Linked DNA regions of Homo sapiens. The protein of the gene in region 3 binds, or shares a complex with, the protein of the main gene of each other region. Each region holds a gene or a part of one and is shown on either strand. Other genes may lie near its edges. The genes, in order: SMARCA2, SMARCA4 and PHF10.

Region 1 (7,107 bases), on a different chromosome or scaffold from region 3:
AATGGCCTCCAGCTGCATCCATGTTGCTGCAAAGGACATGATTTGGTTCTTTTTTATGGCTGTGCATAATTTTTAACAGAATTCTTAATTTTCAGCTTTTATAGTTGAGGTCCAGGAAGGTTCTCGGAAAGTGTATCTTAATTATCTATCATTTTATTGCAGTGGTTTTGGTATCAGGCAAATTGAGGTTCCAATCTTGGCCCCCTTCTTTACTAGCTCTGTGGTATCTCCAGGTGTCTTCAGTTTTCCTCATCAGCAAAATGGGACCATTATAACTTTTACCTTACAGAGGCGTGTCTGTGTGTGTAAGAGAGAGACAATTAAATAACATTGTACATTAAAGGCACTTAGTGCTGTTAATATTAGCCTACTTTAACTTATTACTTATTATTATTCTTTCTTTGTTGAAATCTAGTTCAGTACAGTTTGCCTCAGATTTAGGGGATGTAGTTCTAAAAATAGTCTTAAATGGCATATAATTATTTTGTCAGAATAGGATTCAGGTGAACTCTAAAACCAGCAGTTTATATATCTAACAGTAATAGTATCCCAAGTGAATGGCTAAAGTCAGAGGTCTTTTATTTTCTACTCTGCCTTTATTATGAAGAAGTACATGCAGTTATATTTTTGATGGTGTGTAAAACGAGAATCCTCAACATCCTTTTCTAGAAACTCTTGGTTTTTGAGTACTATTTACTGCTGGCCCTGATTTTTTTAAAACAGCCTCATTTGTATTTTCTTTTCTCAAGCAAGCTCTGCTCACAGAGGAAGTGGTTGTGGCTGGCAGAGCGCTTTCTGAATGTTTAGGGTTGGCTGATTTCTGTGGCATCAGCACCTAAAACTGTTCTTGCTCACTGCGCTTTAATGGCTGTCGTCATCAGCATCTTGGCAAAGAAGACAAATGGTCTGGTTGCCTTAGGACAGAACTAGAAGTTCGGAAGAAAAAAGTCTGTGCTCTCAGCTCTGCATTCTGTCTGGCTGGGAGTTAGAAAGCTTGTCAATTGGTTCTGTCTCTTATATTCTCTCTCTGCTAAGAGTGAGCAAGGACATTTGACTTCCCCACTAGATGCAGGGTGAACCTTCTTTCCCTAGTGTTAGATAGAGGTTATGGAGGAAGCCACATTGTTAAGTAACATATACCTGTCTGCATTAATGCAAAGGTAGCTTTTCTCTGCTTAACATCAAAAATTCTAGTTGGGTGTTAGAGATCAACTATCAGTATCTGGAATATGTTTTGCCCCGGACTTAAACCTAATGTCATTGTTTATCATTTAAGATTAAATTGTAATGTGTTTTTCCCCTGCCCCCTTTTCCCCATTTTATTGTTTCCTTTAGACTTCAGGCCCGCATAGCTCATAGGATACAAGAACTGGAAAATCTGCCTGGCTCTTTGCCACCAGATTTAAGAACCAAAGCAACCGTGGAACTAAAAGCACTTCGGTTACTCAATTTCCAGCGTCAGGTAATACATTTTCCCCAGTGAATCTGAGATGTAGGAAATAAATGTAATTGTTCCTAAAGTGTTATCTGTGTTGCCTTTAGTCTATTCAATATTGTTACAAAGATATAAAGATATAAATATAGTAAAATAGTGAATCTTTTAGACCAACAGCTTACAACTAAAAATGATGAAGATGAACTGCTTATTATTCTGGTTTTCTCTTCTGTATATGGGAAAGAGTTTTTCCTCCTGTACTATGGGTTACAAAGTCAGAGTTATGGCGTTTTGTTACCATGGATGAAAAACCTTGGGAACAAGTGGGGTAGCTCATGTTTGCTTTTATGACTCCAAGGAAAAACCAGAAGGTAGTGGATTGGAGCTTCTTTGTAAGCACAGATGTAAAGTGCTTGCCACGACTGTGAAAATAATTTTAACAAATATGGTAGCCACGCTACTGAATTAGTGGTTCATCATTTATAGAAATACATAAAGCAATGTCTTATAGCTTATTTATTCACCGATGTCTAAGTTTGGAGTGTTTGATCACATCAGGCTCATGTATTGACTAATCAGTAAATTATCTGCTCTTGTAGTTTACAGCAGTTATTAAAAGCCAGTATAATGACCTATTTTCTGATTTCTAAATTAGTAAGAGACAAGTGGAATGAGTTAGAGCTAATTTTCACTTTGGCGAGTTTTGCCTTGTGGACTGAAAAGGTTCAAGTTTGCTAGTCCGCAGATTGCCTCACTAACCCAAAGGGGATAAGGAACGTTTCATTGTTAGTCAGATGGGTTTGTTTTGTTAAAGTCTGGAACATGCGAAATGAATAATTAATGAGTCAAAGTAGTTTGGAAGTATTGACTTGGTTTGTTGGAGGATGTGACTAAAATCACAGGCCACTCCAGTTGCTATTGTGGTAGGAATTTGGGTGTATATTTGCCTTACCGGCTATAATCTCACAGATGGACATTAGTGGTGGGTAGGTGCTACTTGGCTCTTGGTTTGTGAGAGTAGATTTCAGCTTAAATTTTAAAAAGAAAAGGGAAAATTCTCTGAGTTCTGTTTACTTCTTTCTTATTGGTGACCTCATAAGATGAATTAATAAAGTGCTGGATAAAATCTTACTAAATGAATATTAACCAAGTATATTTTCCGGAATATGTTTATGTTCAAATTAGCGTTGCCATGACGGACTCTTATTGATTTCTGATTTTTGTTTGATATTATTTTAAAAATCTGTTATTTATGAAGCTTCCTAATTAAATTAACTGTAACTAATGATATTTCAGATGCAGTGGAATGATTATTTAATGTGTATTCTCCAGTCCCTACCCCCTACCACCACATAACATGCAATACAGATAAAAGTATTACATTTGTGATCTGAAATAAGTTCATGATATAATATAAAATGTAGATCTCTTGGAAAGAAGATCATTATTGGAGTGGGAAGAAGCCAAAACTCATATTTCCCATCCTTTGTATGAGACTATGAATTAACGTTGTTTGAGTACCTGCTGCTACCACACGTGAAAGTAATTCTTTTATTCTTTTTTTGGAGCATCATTAAAATTAATCTTTAAACACAAAGAGAATGTTAACATGACACTTAAAACAAAGCGGAAAATTTAAAAAGCTTATTTAGCTAATTGGTATCATTAGAATAATTAGAGAAAATGAAGTTATTTAAAAGGCAAGACAACATCTTTTCTTTCTTTTACTGTTACAGTACTATAATTGCTTTTGATTTGAATTATTTGGGGAGAAAAATCTTGTACCGTTCTTGAAAATATTGCATACATTTGGCATGATTTTAGTTCCTTCATTTAATACAAACCAAAGGTGATTGAGAAGCTTGTGGAGATTCCCCGCCCCACTCTATTCCATTAAATGCAACCGCGAGAAGGCCAGAGTTCAGGAACCTAGCTTCTGTTAGGGAAGGCTGTCTAACTGCTCTCTTCTTGACAGCTGAGACAGGAGGTGGTGGCCTGCATGCGCAGGGACACGACCCTGGAGACGGCTCTCAACTCCAAAGCATACAAACGGAGCAAGCGCCAGACTCTGAGAGAAGCTCGCATGACCGAGAAGCTGGAGAAGCAGCAGAAGATTGAGCAGGAGAGGAAACGCCGTCAGAAACACCAGGTTCTTAGACCCTGGGCTTTGCTCACCCTCACTTTGGCAGAGCTGTCCAATGAATTCATCAAATGGGGTCAGAATGACTGAAAAATGGACCCTTGTGGGTGGTGGGGACATCACAGAACAGAACGGTTCCTTGACATGTACATAATCCAACCACATCATTTTATAGACAAAGACGCTTAAGCCAGGACGTATAAATGACTGCCCAAGGTCATACAATTGCTTAGCAGCACAATGAGGTTTAGTATTGTCTTAGTTTGTCTGGGCTGCTATAAAAAAATAGCACAAACTGGGTGGTTGATGAGCAACAGAAGTTTATTTTTCACCGTTCTGGAGGCTGGAAGCCTGAGATCAGGGTACTAGCATGGCTGGGCTCTGGTGAGGGTCTTCTTCTGGGTTGCAAACTGTTAACTTCTCCTTGTTTTCTTACGTGGTGGAAGCAGGCCAAGAAAGCTCTCCGGGCTTCCTTTATAAGGGCACTAATCCCATTCGTAAGGGCTCTACCCTCATGACCTTATCACCTCCCGAAGACCCCACCTCCTAATACCATTACATTGGGAGTTAGCATTTCAATATATAAATTTTGGGAGGACACAAACATTCAGTCCATAACAGGTGTCATGTTCATAATCCCATGGGAAGTTTTTGAATGGGTGGGCATAGGTGGATTTCCTAGAGCAAAATTCTGGGAGCAGGAACTTGGAAAAGGAAAGTAGAAAGCAAAAAGTTATTTTCATAACAAATATAATAGTGTCCTGGCTTCTCTGAAGGGCCTAGTTGAATGTTTCACAGAGGCAAATATTAAAAACATTCCTTTCTGGGGGTTTGGAAATATTTTGATGTAGGATTTGATTTCCTGTCATAGTCCTGTAAATTGTATTTGTTTTCCTGTGCTTAATTTAGTGCTTAGCTTAGTTTCCTTTTGAAAAAATGTTGGATTTTAGTGTAAATAGAGTATATATTTAAAAAGTGGATACAAATTCTGCATGGCAATTTTAACTTTGTATAAACTTATTTTGTGTCATACTCTAGGGTAGTTAGAGCAGAAAAACATTACTTTTGTGACATACTTTTTGCTGGAAATACTCATGTTCCTCAGGTTTATTTTGGAGTGAATGAGTGGTTTGCTTTACATTTTATCATTGCCATTTTGTAGGTCTCTTTCAGTCTTCGATCTTTCCATTCTCATGTGGCCACACCCTCAAGGCTAAGGAGGCTTCTCTTGCTAAAGCTTACAACAAAAGGAACCCGAAGAGGCTATCTTTCCCACCAGCCCCATGGCCCACACCTTAACTGCAGAGACACCAGGGCACCTATCCCCAAACAGATTCTAGTCTTCCTATGCTGTTAAACACACACTGAGAGTTTTCTTGGACAACACTGATAGCTCAGAGGACACTGGTCATTGGATTTTAAGTATCCTTTTCTTCCCTTTTTGGATCTTCTAGGAATACCTGAACAGTATTTTGCAACATGCAAAAGATTTTAAGGAATATCATCGGTCTGTGGCCGGAAAGATCCAGAAGCTCTCCAAAGCAGTGGCAACTTGGCATGCCAACACTGAAAGAGAGCAGAAGAAGGAGACAGAGCGGATTGAAAAGGAGAGAATGCGGCGACTGATGGTAAGGAACTCCCTGCAGGAGCCCAGGAAACTACTCAACCCACGTCCGTCTGCAATGAGACCATTAAATATGGTGGTAGTAGAAGGAAAAAATGAAAACTGCTTATCAAAAATTTTAGTAAATTTCTTTGAACCTTAGGGAGATGAAGTAAAAACTTTTTCTCTTTCCTGGAGAATGCATGCCAAAAATCTAGGGGGATGACTGATGCGTATAGTATTTCTGTGTCCTGGGGTGGCATTGCGCGGTACACATTACAGCTTCTCTCATAAAAGCAGGTACTGTATTTTGCATGAGTTTGATAACCAGATCTGGAAGGATGGCAAATGCAGTTCTTTTAAAAATATGGCCTCTTTGAGATGAATGACCACGTTTTTTGGAATGAATAACACATTAAGTCGTGTCTTCAAATCTAAGAAGGTCTGTGTTTTGAAGCCTCTGGTGCTTATCTTTCTTTTTTAATGGCAGAAATTATTCTCTAACAGTGTAATAAGTGATTTTTAAGTTGATTTTGAAATGTTGCCTTTTTTGTGATAGCCTTGTTATGGTCAAAGGCTATTCATGGATTATTACATTTGCACTGTTATTTTTTAATGGGCATATAAGCACAGAAGAGATAGGTTTATATCATTGGCCTGAGTATTTGTTTTTATTGACCATTTATTTTTGGAATTGGACCTCAGAGCACACTGTGGATTTTAGAAAAGCGTGTGTGTGTGTGATGTTATAATTATAGGAGACCTGCAGATTCTATCTAGGACGTAATGCCTGCATAGATGAAGATAAGGTCATTAGTCTCAGACCATAATTATGTTCCTGGAAAATTCTAAGTGACACTGTCTTCCTGGCTGGTATTACAGTTTGCATTTTTTTCATTTTTTGGATTCCAGAGAGTAAACACCATGTTTTAAAAGCCTCTGTGTGCAGGTACTACTACATCTTACTACCCTATCCTGCCTCCCTCTCCATACCAGGGAGAGAGGACTGTCCGAGAGGTTTCTGACTAGACCGTTTTTGTAGTAATTTGATCACTAAGCAGTCAAATTTGTCTGACTCAACTGAAGTGAAACTATATTAGAACTTCAGTAACAGATTGGTTTGACACTAATGATTAGGCATTTGCAAATCATTAATTTTTGCAATTAAGTGATGGAATATACAGATAATAGAGAAACTGAAGTTTTTTATCACTCTTTCTTCAAGTGAGTTCAACCATAACCGAAAGCAATTAGAGTTATAATAGCATTTGAGGCTCTTGCTCATCCACAGGGCAGACGGCAGCTAGACTGAGTGATGAAGCTGCTGTCACTCAGGCAGATGCTAGAGTGACACCCCTGGACAAAAGATCCCAAGTTTTTGTTTTTGTTTTTGCAATGGAGTTGCCTCTTAAAGATTTTGCAGCTTGCTCCTTTTATCGTGGCATTACATGATAAAAATAATTTGGAGTGTCCTTTTATTGGGATACACAAAGAGATTTCTCTCAAAATGGCTTAGAGTACATCAGAGTTTTATTCTGTTTAACCTCATCATGTTGCTTAATGGGAGGTGGAGGTGGGAATTACTGTATCTATTTTATTGCTCAGCAGTACCAGACTTCAGGTGCTAAGTGACTTGTCTCCAGTCACCTGGGCCCATTACTCAGTGCAGATCTGTGGCCAAAAAAAAAAAAAAAAAAAAAAAAAAAAAAAATCCCCCAAATTTGATCTTTCCTGTTAACCACAAAGTTTGTAATGCCAAAAAGAAAGACTTTTTAAAATATAAGACATTATTTGTTAAAAGCCCATTTGATTCCTTGCCTTTAGTAGTACTTTTTGAAATATTTATGAATGAAAGGATATTATGTCTGGAATTTGCTTCAAGACAATTCAGTTTGGGTTTAGAAGAAGAGTAGCAATGAAACAGGAGTC
Region 2 (7,107 bases), on a different chromosome or scaffold from region 3:
CTCCGGGTTTCATTCCAAGTGCGGGGAGGCTGCAGCATGTCCCTCTTTAATATAGAGGTGAGGGAGGCTCTCAGCACCCTGCCTGTTGCAGGGAAGCCTGAGGACAGGACCTCCAGGGAACTCTGCACCAGAGCGGAATCCTCAGACCGGCAACTGGGTGGTCTTGATTCATCCAGAACGTAATTCTCCTAGAGGTCTGGGAAGGGGTGCTCTTGTACCTTGGTTTTGTGTTTTGTTTTTGTTTGTTTTTTGAGACAGAGTCTCACTCTGTCGCCCAGGCTAGAATGCAGTGGTGCGATCTCGGCTCACTGCAACCTCTGCCACCCAGGTTCAGGTGATTCTCCTGCCTCAGCCTCCCGAGTAGCTGGGATTGCAGGTGCCTGTCACCACGCCTGGCTCATTTTTGTATTTTTAGTAGAGACGGGGTATCACTATCTTGGCCAGGCTGGTCTTGAACTCCGGACTTCGTGATCCACCCACCTCAGCCTCCCAAAGTTCTGGGGTTACAGGCGTGAGCCACTGCGCCCAGCCGCACCTTGTTTTTTTTTTGCTGCCTGTAGCTGTTTCTCATTAGCCTGATGGAGGTGGCTGTTGGGGTGGTGGGGTGCTTATTATAAAGCCTTCTGCTGTCACAGCCCTGGGGTCTCACTTCCTGGGCTCTCTGCATAGGGAGCCGCCCTCCAGGGCAAGGGCCACAGTGTGCAGTAAGCCCCCCATGGCCACAGGGCAGGGCGTTTCAAGCCAAGAGTCTGCACTGTTTGCTGGCCACTAAGGGCATTGAATGGATCACAAAACTGGCTTTTTTTTCCCCCAGTCAAATAGAAATGGGGTTTTGCCATGTTGTCCAGGCTGGTCTCAAACTCCTGGGCTCAAGCAATCCTCCCACGTTGGCCTCCCAAAGTGCTGGGATTACAGGCACGAGCCACCATATCTTTAAAAATGTAATAGAATGGAAAATGGCAAAGCGCGCTGCTTTTCATAGAAGAGACTATCGCATTGGGGTTCTTCTGTTGCCCCTGCCTGTGCTGCACGTCCTGCTTCACAGTGTAAAGCGCAACTCTTGCTGTGCCTTATTGTAACAGGTATAGGGTGGATGCTGCCATCATGAAGAGAGAGGAGAGCTCTTTGCTTATAAAATTCCGTAGAGTGGAGAACAGGATGTGCCGGCTTAGGAGAGGGAAGAGGTACAGGCCCGCTCTGCCCGAGCTGCAGATGGGACACACATTTCCCGACTCAGAGGGGAGTCGTGTCTTTCTCCAGGGTCACCGAGCAGCAAGCGCATCCACTGTGTGTTCTTATTTTCTGAGCCTGTGGACTGGGTTTACCAACAGTTGCCTGTGGCAGAGCCGGCCACCAGCCCGCTCATAGGAAAAAGGAAGCCTGTGCCTCCAGGGAGGGCCCACGATGGGAATGCAGTCTGAGAAGGGTATGTGCTCCCATGCTGGACCGGCTGGTCCCACACCCAGGACCAAAAACACCTCCTGGCAGGAGATGGGGAGATGTACTTCATGAACACACGTTGGGGAAGGACACTCCTGGAAGGCAGAGGCTCAAGGCGGGCTGTGTCCAGGCCAGGAGATTCACTCCCACCTCAATTTCCTCCTCAGCACGGCTGGCCTGGCACTGGTGCCTGCTTCAGAGTTTAGTGTGTGTAAAGTGTGGCTGGCCCAGCAAGCAGGGGATGATGGCGGTTGTCAAGGCCAGGGGAGGTGCAGGGACAGGATTCTGGCTCCCGTGTGTAACGTCTGCATCTCAGGAGGCTCTCATGTTAGAAGCTGGGTCAGGGGCTTCGTGATGCACACAAACACCAAACAAGCAGGAGGCCTTCCGGGATCCTGCTCACGAGCAGCTTCCTGGAGGCAAGCCTGGCCCGTCTGCCCCTTGGTGACATCAGGACCCCAGCAACAGAACCAGGGAAGCCACCATGTTGTCGCTGCCATTTTCCAGCGTGGTAAACAGAAGCAAGACAAGGCGCACTCAGGACACCCAAACAGACGGCGGGGCCAGCCAGTGGCATGGGCGGGCTGCCCTGCCCTCTGGAATTTTCTGGGAAAGAACATAAGGAAAGAAGCGGTGCTGATGAGGCAGCTGGAGTTATCAGGACCCAAGCTCAGCTCCTCCTTCCCATCAGGCCCCGTTGGCCACTTTTAGGCTTCGTCCGCCTGGTGGCTCCCTGCTTGGGGCCGTTCCCTGGCTAGGCCCTTCCTCTGGGCCAAAGCAGAGAGGAGAGCGCGTTTGCCATGCGTTCTCATTTTCCCAGCCTGCGGGCTGGGTTCTGTCAGAGCAAGGTCAGCTCTCAGAGCTTCTGTCCCCACCCACCCTGTCCTGCTGAGCCAGGCTCAGGTATGGGTAAGAGCTGGGAGCGCTGTGCACGAGGCCTGGCAGCATCTCATCACTGCCGCTGTACCGAGTGCACAAGGGCGCTTCCTGTGGTGTTCAGGGGGTTAGATCAGTCCCCAGTGAGGACAGAGCAGAGATCCAGATGCATCCCAGGCCGGCTGCAGTGGCTTCTGCCTCTAATCCCAGCACTTCGGGAGGCCAAGGCAGGCAGATCACGAGGTCAAGAGATCGAGACCATCCTGACCAACATGGTGAAACCCTGTCTCTACTAAAAATACAAAAATTAGCCGGGTGTGGTGGCTGGCATCTGTAATCCCAGCTACTCGGGAGGCTGAGGCAGGAGAATTGCTTGAGCCCAGGAGGCAGAGGTTGCAGTGAGCCGAGATCATTCCATTGCGCTCCAGTCTGGCGACAGAACAAGACTCTGTCTCAAAAAAAACAAAAAACAAAAAAATGTATCACAGGCCTGTTTGTGTGGTTGTCTCTGGGAAATGTTCCAGAAGCTACAAGAAAGCACATGTGCAGGCCAGGCATGGTGGCTCACACCTGTAATCCCAGCACTTTGGGATGCTGAGGCGGGCTGATCACCTGAGGTCGGGAGTTTGAGACCAGTCTGACCAACATGGAGAAACCCTGTCTCTACTAAAAATACAAAATTAGCCTGGCATGGTGGTGCACGACTGTAAAAAATCCCAGTGACTCCAAAGGCTGAGGCAGGAGAATCTCCTGAACCTGGGAGGTGGAGGTTGCAGTGAGCCGAGATCGCACCATTGCACTCCAGCCTGGGCAGCAAGAGCGAAACTCCGTCTCAAAAAAAAAAAAAGCGCATGTGCAAGAAATAGCTCCTGAGCTGAGTTGGAATTTCTCATCCTTAAACAATGTGGGAACCTGCTGAGGTGGGGTGGGGGCTCCCGGGTGGGCGGACTCGGGGGTGATAGCCGCCGGTTCTGCCTTGCAGCAGCAGTGGACGTCAGCTCAGCGAGGTCTTCATCCAGCTGCCCTCGCGAAAGGAGCTGCCCGAGTACTACGAGCTCATCCGCAAGCCCGTGGACTTCAAGAAGATAAAGGTAACCCTGACGTTGTACCTGCGCCCCGCATGTGCCCGGAGGGGAGTCTGACCCAGGGGCACCCCCATCTGAGAGCTGTGGTGTGTGGGCAGAATGACCAGAAACCACCTAGGCGGTGCCTTGGGCTACCTGGTTAGGGACCTGGTCGTGGGCTTTTGGGGTTCCTTGTAAGGGTTGGGGGTGTCCTGAGGGATGTCAGTGGGCAGTCGGTGTTGGGTGTTCCTTCAAGGTCCCACTCACTTAGTGCTGGGCCTCAGTCATGCAGTTCCCATGCCTAGTGAGCCAGGTTACCGAGGCTGGCGCTTCGGCCACATCCTCATAGGCACGAGGAATCCTAGCCCGTGGGGTCTCCAGCACACAGCCAGGCCTGCGGGCAGGCGAGGCGGGGTCCTGAGGTAAGACCTGCTCCTCCCGTCCACTGCAGGAGCGCATTCGCAACCACAAGTACCGCAGCCTCAACGACCTAGAGAAGGACGTCATGCTCCTGTGCCAGAACGCACAGACCTTCAACCTGGAGGGCTCCCTGGTGAGGGCACCGCTGGGGGTTGGGGATGGGCCACTCCCACAGCTGGGCTTTGACCCAACCCGCCCCTCCTTCCCTTCTGAATTGATGGGTTAAAAACAAGTCCCGCTAGCTGTGGTGGTTCGTGCCTGTAATCCCAGCACTTTGGGAGGCCAAGGCGGGAGGATCACTTGAGACCAGGAGTTCACGACCAGCCTGGGCAACATAACAAGACCCTGTCTTTAAAAAAAAAAAAGAAAAAATTAAAAATTTCCAACTTGGGATATTTTAGCAATTACAAAAGCAGTATGTATTTACCGAAGAAAATAAAGATAGGCACAACAGAAGAAATAGACTCAGAGTCCTCTGTCTGTTGGAATTTTATTTTAAATTCCCTGGGGCACATTCTCTTCAAAGGAATCCTGTGGGTTTGTTCTTTCCTGTGATAGAATTGACACATACACAGCCTCAACTTGGCAAACTTTCTTAAGTGTCTTTGGGATTGATTCCTCTCAGAAAAAAGACTTGACTTTGATGAGTTTGGGAAAGATGCTGGCTTCAACAAGGGGCATGTATTTCCAATGTTATTGCAGACCTCAGAGATTGTGCAGAAGGAGGGAGGCACCTGCAGCTATTCCCAAACCAGTGTGCCTGACCTTTCACCCTGGAGCATTTCAGAAGTCTGATGCTCGGGCCCCTATGGAGGAAGATTATGGAGAGGGCCTTCCACCCTGGGTGGGCTGAAGCCCCGACCCGCTGAGGCTCGCATTGGCCACTGATCAGCTGTCCAGGGGCAACACAGGGCTGGGGCTGGGGCTGGGGCCAGGGCCGGGCAGGCAGCCCTCCAGTCGGGCCCATCCACTCAAGCCCCTGGTGTCTCTGCCCAGATCTATGAAGACTCCATCGTCTTGCAGTCGGTCTTCACCAGCGTGCGGCAGAAAATCGAGAAGGAGGATGACAGTGAAGGCGAGGAGAGTGAGGAGGAGGAAGAGGGCGAGGAGGAAGGCTCCGAATCCGAATGTGAGTCCCGGGGGGGTTCAGGACGCCGGGGTTCACGCTGGCCCGAGAGCCCCCAAGGCCCCAGCTTTTCACAGCCCTCCCGGCTCCCAGACGCCCCTTGCTGTGGGGGTGCTGCATTCCCAGAGCTCAAGGCTGTCTTTCCCTCCCGGTCCCCTCCAGCTCGGTCCGTCAAAGTGAAGATCAAGCTTGGCCGGAAGGAGAAGGCACAGGACCGGCTGAAGGGCGGCCGGCGGCGGCCGAGCCGAGGGTCCCGAGCCAAGCCGGTCGTGAGTGACGATGACAGTGAGGAGGAACAAGAGGAGGTGAGGCCGGGCCCCCGAGCAGGCAGAGCTGGCATGTGGCAGGAGGCATCCCGGGGCCCTGATGGGACAGCCCTGTGGGGCGGTGCTCCCACGCCCCCACGCTGCAGGTGGGAAAGCTGAGGCTTGACCTGCCATGGCTGACCCCAGGTCACACAGCCAGTATGTGGCAGGGCTGCCACTCAAAGCCAAGCCTGTGTGACCCCGGAACCAGCTCTCAGTACCCGTGGGTGTCTGGGGACTGGGGGACACGTGAGTCCTCAGGACAGGCAGCAGGCGGTCCCAGGGCACCAGGGCTCCTGGGCTGAGGCCGGGCAGGCCAGGGCTTGATTAGGGTTGGGTAGGAGGTGCTAGGATTGGGGACCCACCAGACAGTGCCCCGTCTCCTCAGTGGCATAGAGAATGGGCAGAAACGCCAAGACCACAGTGGATAGTTTTTGGGGTGCAGTGGGGAGCCGGAGAAGATCCACTTGCTGGCTTTAAATAATCTCACCTCTGTCTCTGGCCCTTCCTGGCTGTGGGACCTGGCAGGTCACTTTGCTTCTCAAGCTTCAGTTTCCTCTTATGCAAAGCAAGGAGGCTGCATGGATTAGGGGGCTGCCCCCACCGAAGGGCCTGGCTCCCGCTGAAGCCCAGCGAATGCCATTTTGTCATCACAGAAGCAGCAAATTTCAGTGCCTGGGAATTAGTCTGACGAAAGACGCACGTGACGTTTGAGGACATTCATGAAGTCCTCATGTGGAGGGGAGGCCCCTGTGTCAGGCAGGAGGGTCTGGGCTGTGATGCTGTCTCTCTTGCCTAATCCAGAGCAGGGTGTTTTATGGCCCATGCCAGGCTGTTTAAAAAGGTTTTATGAGGCCAGGTCCAGTGGCTCACACCTGTAATCCCAGCACTTTGGGAAACTGAGGCAGGAGGCTCACTTGAGCCTGGGAGGTCGAGGCTGCAGTGAGCCGTGATAGCACCACTGCACTCCAGCCTGGGCAACAGAGCAAGACCCTGTCTTTAAAAAAAAAAAAAAAAATATATATATATATATATATATATATATATATATATATGAAAGAGCAAAGATCTTTCACAGTCAGGAAGAACCAAGATGGTTTGGAAGCTGTAGGTCAGGGGCCAAGGGCCAGGCAGGTGACATGGGACAGAGCAGGGAAGGCACGTGGAGCCTCGAAGGTCCCGAGAGGGCCGAGTGTGGTCACAGGGACTCGTCCTGTAGAGAAACATGAAGTTTGGGCATGGCCATGGCGCCATCTCGGCTCACTGCAAGCTCCACCCCCCGGGATCGCGCCATTCTCCTGCCTCAGCCTCCCAAGTAGCTGGGACTACAGGCGCCCGCCACCACGCCCGGCTAATTTTTTGTATTTTTTAGTAGAGACGGGGTTTCACCGTGTTAGCCAGGATGGTCTCGATCTCCTGACCTCGTGATCCGCCCGCCTTGGCCTTCCAAAGTGCTGGGATTACGGGCGTGAGCCACCGTGCCCGGCCCACATCAGTGTTTTCTTGAGCAAGTTTATTTAAAGTTTGGCAGGTCCCTGGCAAGGTGCCCTGGCAGGGGTGGCCAACGCACACTCTCTCCTCCTGTCCCCTCTCCAGGACCGCTCAGGAAGTGGCAGCGAAGAAGACTGAGCCCCGACATTCCAGTCTCGACCCCGAGCCCCTCGTTCCAGAGCTGAGATGGCATAGGCCTTAGCAGTAACGGGTAGCAGCAGATGTAGTTTCAGACTTGGAGTAAAACTGTATAAACAAAAGAATCTTCCATATTTATACAGCAGAGAAGCTGTAGGACTGTTTGTGACTGGCCCTGTCCTGGCATCAGTAGCATCTGTAACAGCATTAACTGTCTTAAAGAGAGAGAGAGAGAATTCCGAATTGG
Region 3 (7,216 bases):
GTAACAGAGTTTTTGATGTTTCAACAAAAGTTCTTAAGTGTCACAGAACAATTTTAATTTTTCTCTTTGATTATTAAGATCACTTTGCACAATTTCAACTTCCATGGTCATTTTTCTAGTCATGTTCTACCATGCCAAGCTAGGACTGGCTGTATGCTTTCTAATTCCTTAACCAACTCACATTCAGTTGCCTTTTACCCCTCTAGACTTTGCTGTCGCCAATATTAGTATGACTTCTGAAATCTTTATTTCAAGCAAGTTATTCTCATGCAATCATTTCCTGTCCTTCCAGCTCACCACCTCTAGTACCCCGAAGACAGCCATTCTCTAATCTTATTGAAATCTCCAGTTCATTGGCTTTTTTCACCATTTATAGCCCTCAAATTTCCTACCTTGTCCAGCTTAGATATCATGGCTCATCATTATAATCACTCCTTTACAAACAGACTTCAATTTCTTTGTCCCTCTTCCTCACCTGGAAAACCCCTTCCTGAATGAACCCCATTATCCACTTTGTCCAAGCCTGAATCCAAGTAGGTAAACTTGACTGAGAACCTGACAAAGCCAGACCGAGTAGTTTCACTTTAAATTCATGACCATAACTCTCAAGAAGGCAAAACACTTGGCATCCTGGAAACTTTGCTTTCCTGCTGACACACCTCCTTCTTCCTCAGATCTTCTGTATCTCTCTCCCCTACACAACTGTCAGCTGATTTTCCCTTTATATTTCATGAAGGAAAGAAAATATATCAGAAATAAAAATCCTTCAAGTTGGCTGGGTGCAGTGGCTCACGCCTGTAATCCCAGCACTTTGGGAGGCCGAGGCAGGCAGATCATGAGGTCAGGAGATCGAGACCATCCTGGCTAACATGGTGAAACTCCGTCTCTACTAAAAATACAAAAAATTAGCCAGGTGTGGTAGCGGGCACCTGTAGTCCCAGCTACTTGGGAGGCTGAGGCAGGAGAATGGCGTGAACCCAGGAGGTGGAGCTTGCAGTGAGCCGAGATCAGGCCACTGCACTCCAACCTGGGCAACAGAGTGAGTCTCTGTCTCAAAAAAAAACAAAAAAACAAAAAAACAAACCTTCAAGTTTTCCACTCACCTGCTTGCAGCTGCGACCACCTTCTGTCTTTCCTGTTAAATTGGGTGGATTCTGCTTCCTGTCTAATACCTGTGCTCTGGAGCCCATTTTTCCTTGCCTTCTCACAAGCTGCCTTCCAGTAGCATTTCCTCTCTCTGCTCAATCATGGTTTTCTGCCTTCCTACTCAGTCATTCTTTTCAGTATACCAACATGTGCTAATGTCTTCCATCTTAAAAACATCCCTACCACCTCTCCAGATACTCTCTTTCTCCATTACTTTTTATAATAAAACTACACAGAAGAGTTGTCTATACTCTGGCTCCAATTCCTAGGCTTCCATTCCTCCCTTAATCTGCTTTAATTTAGTTTCTGAAACCACCACTTTGCTGAAATAGCTTGAAACAGTCAAGACAGTTAATTACCTCCAGGTTGATAAATACAATGTATTCTTCTCTGCCACCTTACTAACTTCTCCATTAGGAGAGCTGACCAGTCCCTCTTTTAAAACACTCTCTCCTTTCAGTTTACAGTACTTTACACTTAGTTTTCTTTTTTTTCCTTCTCTATCTTACTTCCACAAGTTGAGTACCTTTGGACTTCTTGGTCTTGGGCCTTATTTTCACGTATATCTGCATAATCTAAGTGGTCTCATACGGTTTCATGCTTTTTTCCCCCTTATCAGTATTTCCAGGGCCTAACTCAGGGTGTAACTTAGTAAACAGTAAGGCATTCATTTGATGAATGAATGAATAAATGGTTTTTTTATATCTTCATCATTTAACATAGTTCTTAGTTAATACTTGGCTTGCCATAAAATATTTGTGGAATAATTGGACATTATTGTTATCATACAAATGAGGAAATGGAGGGTCAGAGAGATTAACTAATTTACCTTTGATCACACAGCTAATAAGAGGCACAGCTGGGATTTAAACCAAAGTCTTAACTTGAAATCTTTGTTCTCTCCATTACATCATAGTACCTCCCTACATATTTCATCCTTAACTCCTAGAATCCATCTTCATTTATCTCATTCTTATGCCAAACTGGAACGATTGATGTACCTGAATATGTCTATTTTCCCACCCCTCAGCCTGTTTGGGGCTTGAAACCCAATTTCTACTTCCATTGCACATCTACCTGTGTCTTTCTTACCTGTCTTTAAAGCAGTTTTCAAATTCTAGGTCAACCTTGAAACCTCCATTTTTTTTAGTTGGTAGTAAACTCCATTTTTTTTTTTAGTTGCTAGTTGTTTTCCCACCTAAGCTGCCTTAAAGTACAATTATATATTCGTACCATATTGTATTAGTGTTGAAGCTGCCTATAGGCAGGGATCTAATCTATACAGTGTCTCCTTAATATTCTTCTTTGCCTTGCACATTGGAAGACTGAATCAGTTATTTGTTGACTCCAGAATAAATTTGCATTTGATCTTGTCAACCTAAATAACAGACAGGTTTGCCAAACATGACAAATTTATTTGAAAGTGGGCATTGCAATGTAGAATATGGTGTCATAGTAAACTATAGGTGTATTCAGGGAGGTAAAGGAAGATAAGGGGTTTAAAAGGAAAAACGAGGAGGATTACGTAAGTTGTTTTGAAACAATTATCCTTGGCTACAAAGATCAGTAACAAAGGGGATGGCCAGTCCAAGGTTGGACAGGCAGTTGCTGCGCAAATGTCCTTGAAGCATTTTTTTGTGTAGTTTTGTGGCCTTTGTGCAAGGTTGTGGTTTTGGCAGTCTTTTGTGCTAATTCTTTATATCAGGCAATTATTAGTGAGAACTTTCCCATCACGGCTTTCCCTGACTCCATTCTCTGACAGCTTTCACAATCTAGAGACAGAATCCCGGAGGGAGAGGAGTACCAAATAGCTTAAGAGTTTTTTTTTGTTTTTGTTTTTTTTCTTAAAAAAAAAACCGCTAAACTCTACCCTGATCAGTGAAAAGAATTTAGCTGAAAGATGCAGTTTCTTCTTGGCAGATTCAGACAAGAAGTGCGGCGGAAGCTTACACCTGCACGTGGTGGGACAGAGGCAAGAACGGATGGTCTGGCTGAGGCTGAGAGAACCAAGCTGGATTAGGATCGGCTTGAGGGCCCGGCGTCGTCAGTGGTGACCTCTCTGACCTGAGGCAAGTGAGTCAGGCTGGACTGAGCGTGTTAACGTCGGTGTTTGTCAATGTGACGCGCTAGAATAATCCCTTTATCTTTCCCAACTTTTGTTTGTTGAGTGTAGGCAACTATAATGAATGGAAAGGAAACCGGATTGTACTTTAAATCCGAGAACATTCTCTACTCTCCAGAACAAGTCATCTGCAGGCGCAGGCAGTGGAATCCGTGAGGCCAGCTGTACGGCGGGCCGCCCCGGACCCAGGCTTGGCTCCTCACTTTCCGCTGTTTTTAGTGCGGTCCTACAAGTGCCCTGGTGCAGCCCGAGATCAGTAATAAATGCAGCTGAAATACACCGGCTCCCACGTTCTCGCGGGGGTACCTGCCAGGCCGGCGTCCACGCTCCTCCCCGGCTCCCGGCCGACCGCGTTCTCGGCGGAGGCATCAACCACGCGGGCACGCAAAGCCACGAGGGCCGAATCTCAGCGACTTCTTCCCGCTGTGCCTCCCGCACGCTCCGGGGCGGGCGCCGACAGCCCCCGGGTGCAGCTGCGGATGCTCGGGGAAGCGTGGCCTGGGCAGGTGGCTCCGCTGCTCTCTCGGAGCGCCACCAGCGAGAGGGGCGACCCGAGAACAAAGGCGGGAGAGGAGCGGCGACCGCGAGCGCGTAGAGGCGGAGGCCGCGCAGTCTCCGCGCGACTGCTCCGGGCAGGGCGACCCCCGGCAGAGAGGGGGCGGGGCGGGGACCCCCGGGAGGGGCGGGGAGGGGCGCGGCGGGGGCGCGGAGAGAGGGAGGGAACGAGGGTGACGCGCGGAGGGGCCGGGCCGGGGGCCGCGGGGAGGGGGCGGCTGCGAGCGCGCCAAGTGGCGACGTGCCGGGCCGGGGCGGGCCGGAGGGCGGGCGGGAGGTGGGGCGCGCCGGGGGCTGGGGGGAGCCGCGGCCGAGTACAACGCCGGGCCGTGGGGAGCCAGGCGGCGGCGGGGCTGAGGCGGCCGCGGGGCTGAGGGGAGCGGCGGGGCTGAGGCGAGCGGCGGGGCTGAGGCGAGCGGCGGGGCTGAGGCGGCCGCGGGGCTGAGGCGAGCGAGCGGCGGGGCTGAGGCGAGCGAGTGGCGGGGCTGAAGGGAGTCGCGGCGGCGCTGAGGCCAGCGGCGGAGCTGTGGGGGGCAACGGTGCTGAGGCGGTGGCCGCGGCCGGGCGGGTTGGGCTGACGTGAGAAGCGCCGCCGCCGCTGGGCCTCCTCCATTCCGGCCCGCAGCCCCGCGCCCTCCCAGCCTTTGGCGCCCTCCCGCGCGGGCGGCGCGCTGGCGACGGCCATGGCGGTGGCGGCGGCGCTGGCGGGCCGCGGGGCGCGCGGCGGCAGGGGCCGGCCCCCGGGCGGGCGGGCGGAGGGGGCGGGGCCGGGGCGGCGGGGGGCCCGCGCGGCGGCGGCGGCGGCGGCGGCGGCAGCGGCGGCGGCGGCCGGGACAAGGCGGAGGCGACGGCGGCGGCGGCGGCGCGGGGCGCTCGGGCTGATGGCGGCGGCGGCCGGGCCCGGGGCTGCGCTGTCCCCGCGGCCGTGCGACAGCGACCCAGCCACCCCCGGAGCGCAGTCCCCGAAGGTGAGGAAGCGGCCGGTGCGACCCGACCCTGACCCCGTCCCGGGCCTGGGTGCCGGGGCGTGGGCCCAGTCCCACCGGCGGCCGCCCAGCGTCTCGGGGGCGTGGGCCCAGGCCGGGCGCCGCGCCTGAGACCGGGGGTGGTCGGCGAGGCGGGGCCCCGAGGTGAGCCCGCGGCCTCTAGCGAGCAACAAGTGCGGGCGGGCGGGGGACGCGGCGCGGCTTCCCCGAAGTTGGCAGCCGGCCCTGCTTGACAAGCTTGTCCCCAAAACGCCTCCTCCTAGGCCAGCCGTGGGACGGAACGCGCCCGGGGCCGAGAGAGTTGGCCTCGGAGGGGCCTGCAGAAGCGCGCGTTCGCTCAGCGTTCATTCCGCGCATAGTTTGCCGAAGTGTTTGAACGCTTACTGCAAAAACCGAGTGGCGAACGATATGGAAAATCAACACACTCAGTGAACTTACTGTAATAACTAAGTTAATACGCAAGCGTCCGGATGTTTTCAGCGGAAGTCTGTTAAAACTTTTTACTGCTTGAGGAGGTGAAAAGAAATTGGTGCTTGTGGAGAAAATGGAGATGAGCAGTAGTGTCACGCATCAAAACGTTTTGGTTCTAAAGTTAGGCTAGCAGTTTGTGACAGAAAGTTGGAAGGGAGGAATGATGTTTTAAAAGCCTGGAAGCTTGAAATTGGATTGAAATTAGAAGGCGGTGGGAACTGGAATGCTGCAGAGCCAGCCAGCCTTCGTGCGGTGCGCGGTGTGCCGTGTGCGCGTTGGCAGGGGAAGCCGTCCTGTAGCAGCCTAGCCGGGCTGCGCCTGCTTGGGAGCTTTTCCCGTTGCGCACGTCCACCGTGCTGTGAGACTCATTTTGAAGGTTCCTCAAAGGCTGTCGTCAATGGAAGTAACTAGATTGTAAGACTCTGAATGCACATCCTTGCACTTCCAGCATTTGACGTCTGGCCCGGCACCTGGAGGGCACTGAGCCAGTGCCCCCTGAGTGCATTCTTGACCCCTGAGCCCTAGGAAGGATGTGATGCATAGAAATTCATCTGATCTGTAGTTGGAAACCACCTGTAACTCTGGAAGGCACATCTCTGATTTAGTATGTTTGGGAGTCTTTGAAAACATGGGCCTCTGTATCAGTATTGCGGTTACACGGAAATTCTTACCTTATTCCGTCATGTATTGGGAACAATATTGCTGTTACTACCTCCCTCAAGAAAAAGGCCCGCTGCCCAGATGCTCACTTTATATAATAATGCCTTTGCCTAGAATTTGTAGTAGTAATTTAAAACACTTGATGAAATTGTAGTCTCAGCTTTTTTGAGCACTTTGCATTTTTAACTTTATTTTTGTATATTTTTGAGTGTCTCAACTTTTTAGCTAAAGGAAAATGTTTTTAAGTTTAAGGATATAAAAATCCTTAAAATGCTCACCAGTAAAATAGAAAAAATACTGGAATGTTTAAAATGAGTTATGTTGAAAGTATTGAATATGCAGTGTTGCAGTTGTATGCAGATACTTATGCAAATTTTCAGAGAGTAGATTTAGACTATGCAAAGCTCTTTAATGAAATGCTTATTTTATAAGGACTGAAAAAGAATATATATTTTACTATTTGGAAAAGAACCAGTTAATTCCTAGGAGCTAGAGACATTTGAGACTTTATTATCATCATAATCATCATTTTAACTAATATTTATCAGATAACTCGCCAGTCCTTGTTCTAAGTACTTTTAATATAGTAGCTCGTTTAATCATTGAATTAGCCATGTAATGGGGCACTATTATAGTCTCAAATTTTCGGATAAGGAGATGCTCACAGAGAATAACCTACTCAGCTAGTGAGGGACAGTGCCCAGTGAGAACCCAGGCCGTCCAGCTCTGGCATGCCTGGCCACTATACCATATTGCCTCTTTATATTCTTTTGCAGGATTGCTTTCATTTTAATATGTAGCAAGAGGACTATAGTATTTAGCAAAATTGGATTAGCGTTGAAAGCTATATTACATTAAAAAATTATGATTTTTAGACTTTAAGCCTTGGCTAATAAGTAAATAAATCAATTTCCTAACATCTGATACTTTTTCTGAATGAAATGGTTGAATTTATAACCTTGATGTTCTTGCCACATAATGGATTACATTAAAAATATATAATCTTCTTTAAAAAAAAAATTCCCCTCCCCCTCTCAAGCTTCTTTTTTTGGTGTGTGTGCTGCTATATTATAGATTGATGACCCTTATTAGGGTATATTTTTGCTAAATTTTAGCAGTGTAAGAGGAAGAGTGAATAGTTAGAATTGTTTTCGGTCTCATATGTCCCCTTTTCACAGGGACATAAATGCCTAAAGTAGTCAATTAAAATAGTCCTATGAACCGGCTTCAAGTTGAATTGAGAACTGTAAATGATCCATACATTTTTTTCCCCCTG

What was found.
Region 1: PHF10 (region 3) and SMARCA2 share a complex: the UniProt entries of both Homo sapiens proteins name them as parts of the neural progenitors-specific chromatin remodeling complex.
Region 2: PHF10 (region 3) and SMARCA4 share a complex: the UniProt entries of both Homo sapiens proteins name them as parts of the neural progenitors-specific chromatin remodeling complex.

Annotation. Positions count from the first base shown.
Region 1 is NC_000009.12:2,053,262-2,060,368, forward strand, and holds part of SMARCA2 (SWI/SNF-related matrix-associated actin-dependent regulator of chromatin subfamily A member 2), read left to right. Parts: intron 1-1,335; coding exon 1,336-1,462; intron 1,463-3,410; coding exon 3,411-3,584; intron 3,585-5,029; coding exon 5,030-5,203; intron 5,204-7,107. UniProt on the Homo sapiens protein: ATPase involved in transcriptional activation and repression of select genes by chromatin remodeling (alteration of DNA-nucleosome topology).
Region 2 is NC_000019.10:11,054,957-11,062,063, forward strand, and holds part of SMARCA4 (SWI/SNF-related matrix-associated actin-dependent regulator of chromatin subfamily A member 4), read left to right. Parts: intron 1-3,298; coding exon 3,299-3,407; intron 3,408-3,831; coding exon 3,832-3,933; intron 3,934-4,796; coding exon 4,797-4,929; intron 4,930-5,088; coding exon 5,089-5,231; intron 5,232-6,827; coding exon 6,828-6,860; 3' UTR 6,861-7,107. UniProt on the Homo sapiens protein: ATPase involved in transcriptional activation and repression of select genes by chromatin remodeling (alteration of DNA-nucleosome topology).
Region 3 is NC_000006.12:169,721,420-169,728,635, reverse strand, and holds the start of PHF10 (PHD finger protein 10), read left to right. Parts: upstream 1-4,135; 5' UTR 4,136-4,704; coding exon 4,705-4,791; intron 4,792-7,216. UniProt on the Homo sapiens protein: Involved in transcription activity regulation by chromatin remodeling. Belongs to the neural progenitors-specific chromatin remodeling complex (npBAF complex) and is required for the proliferation of neural progenitors.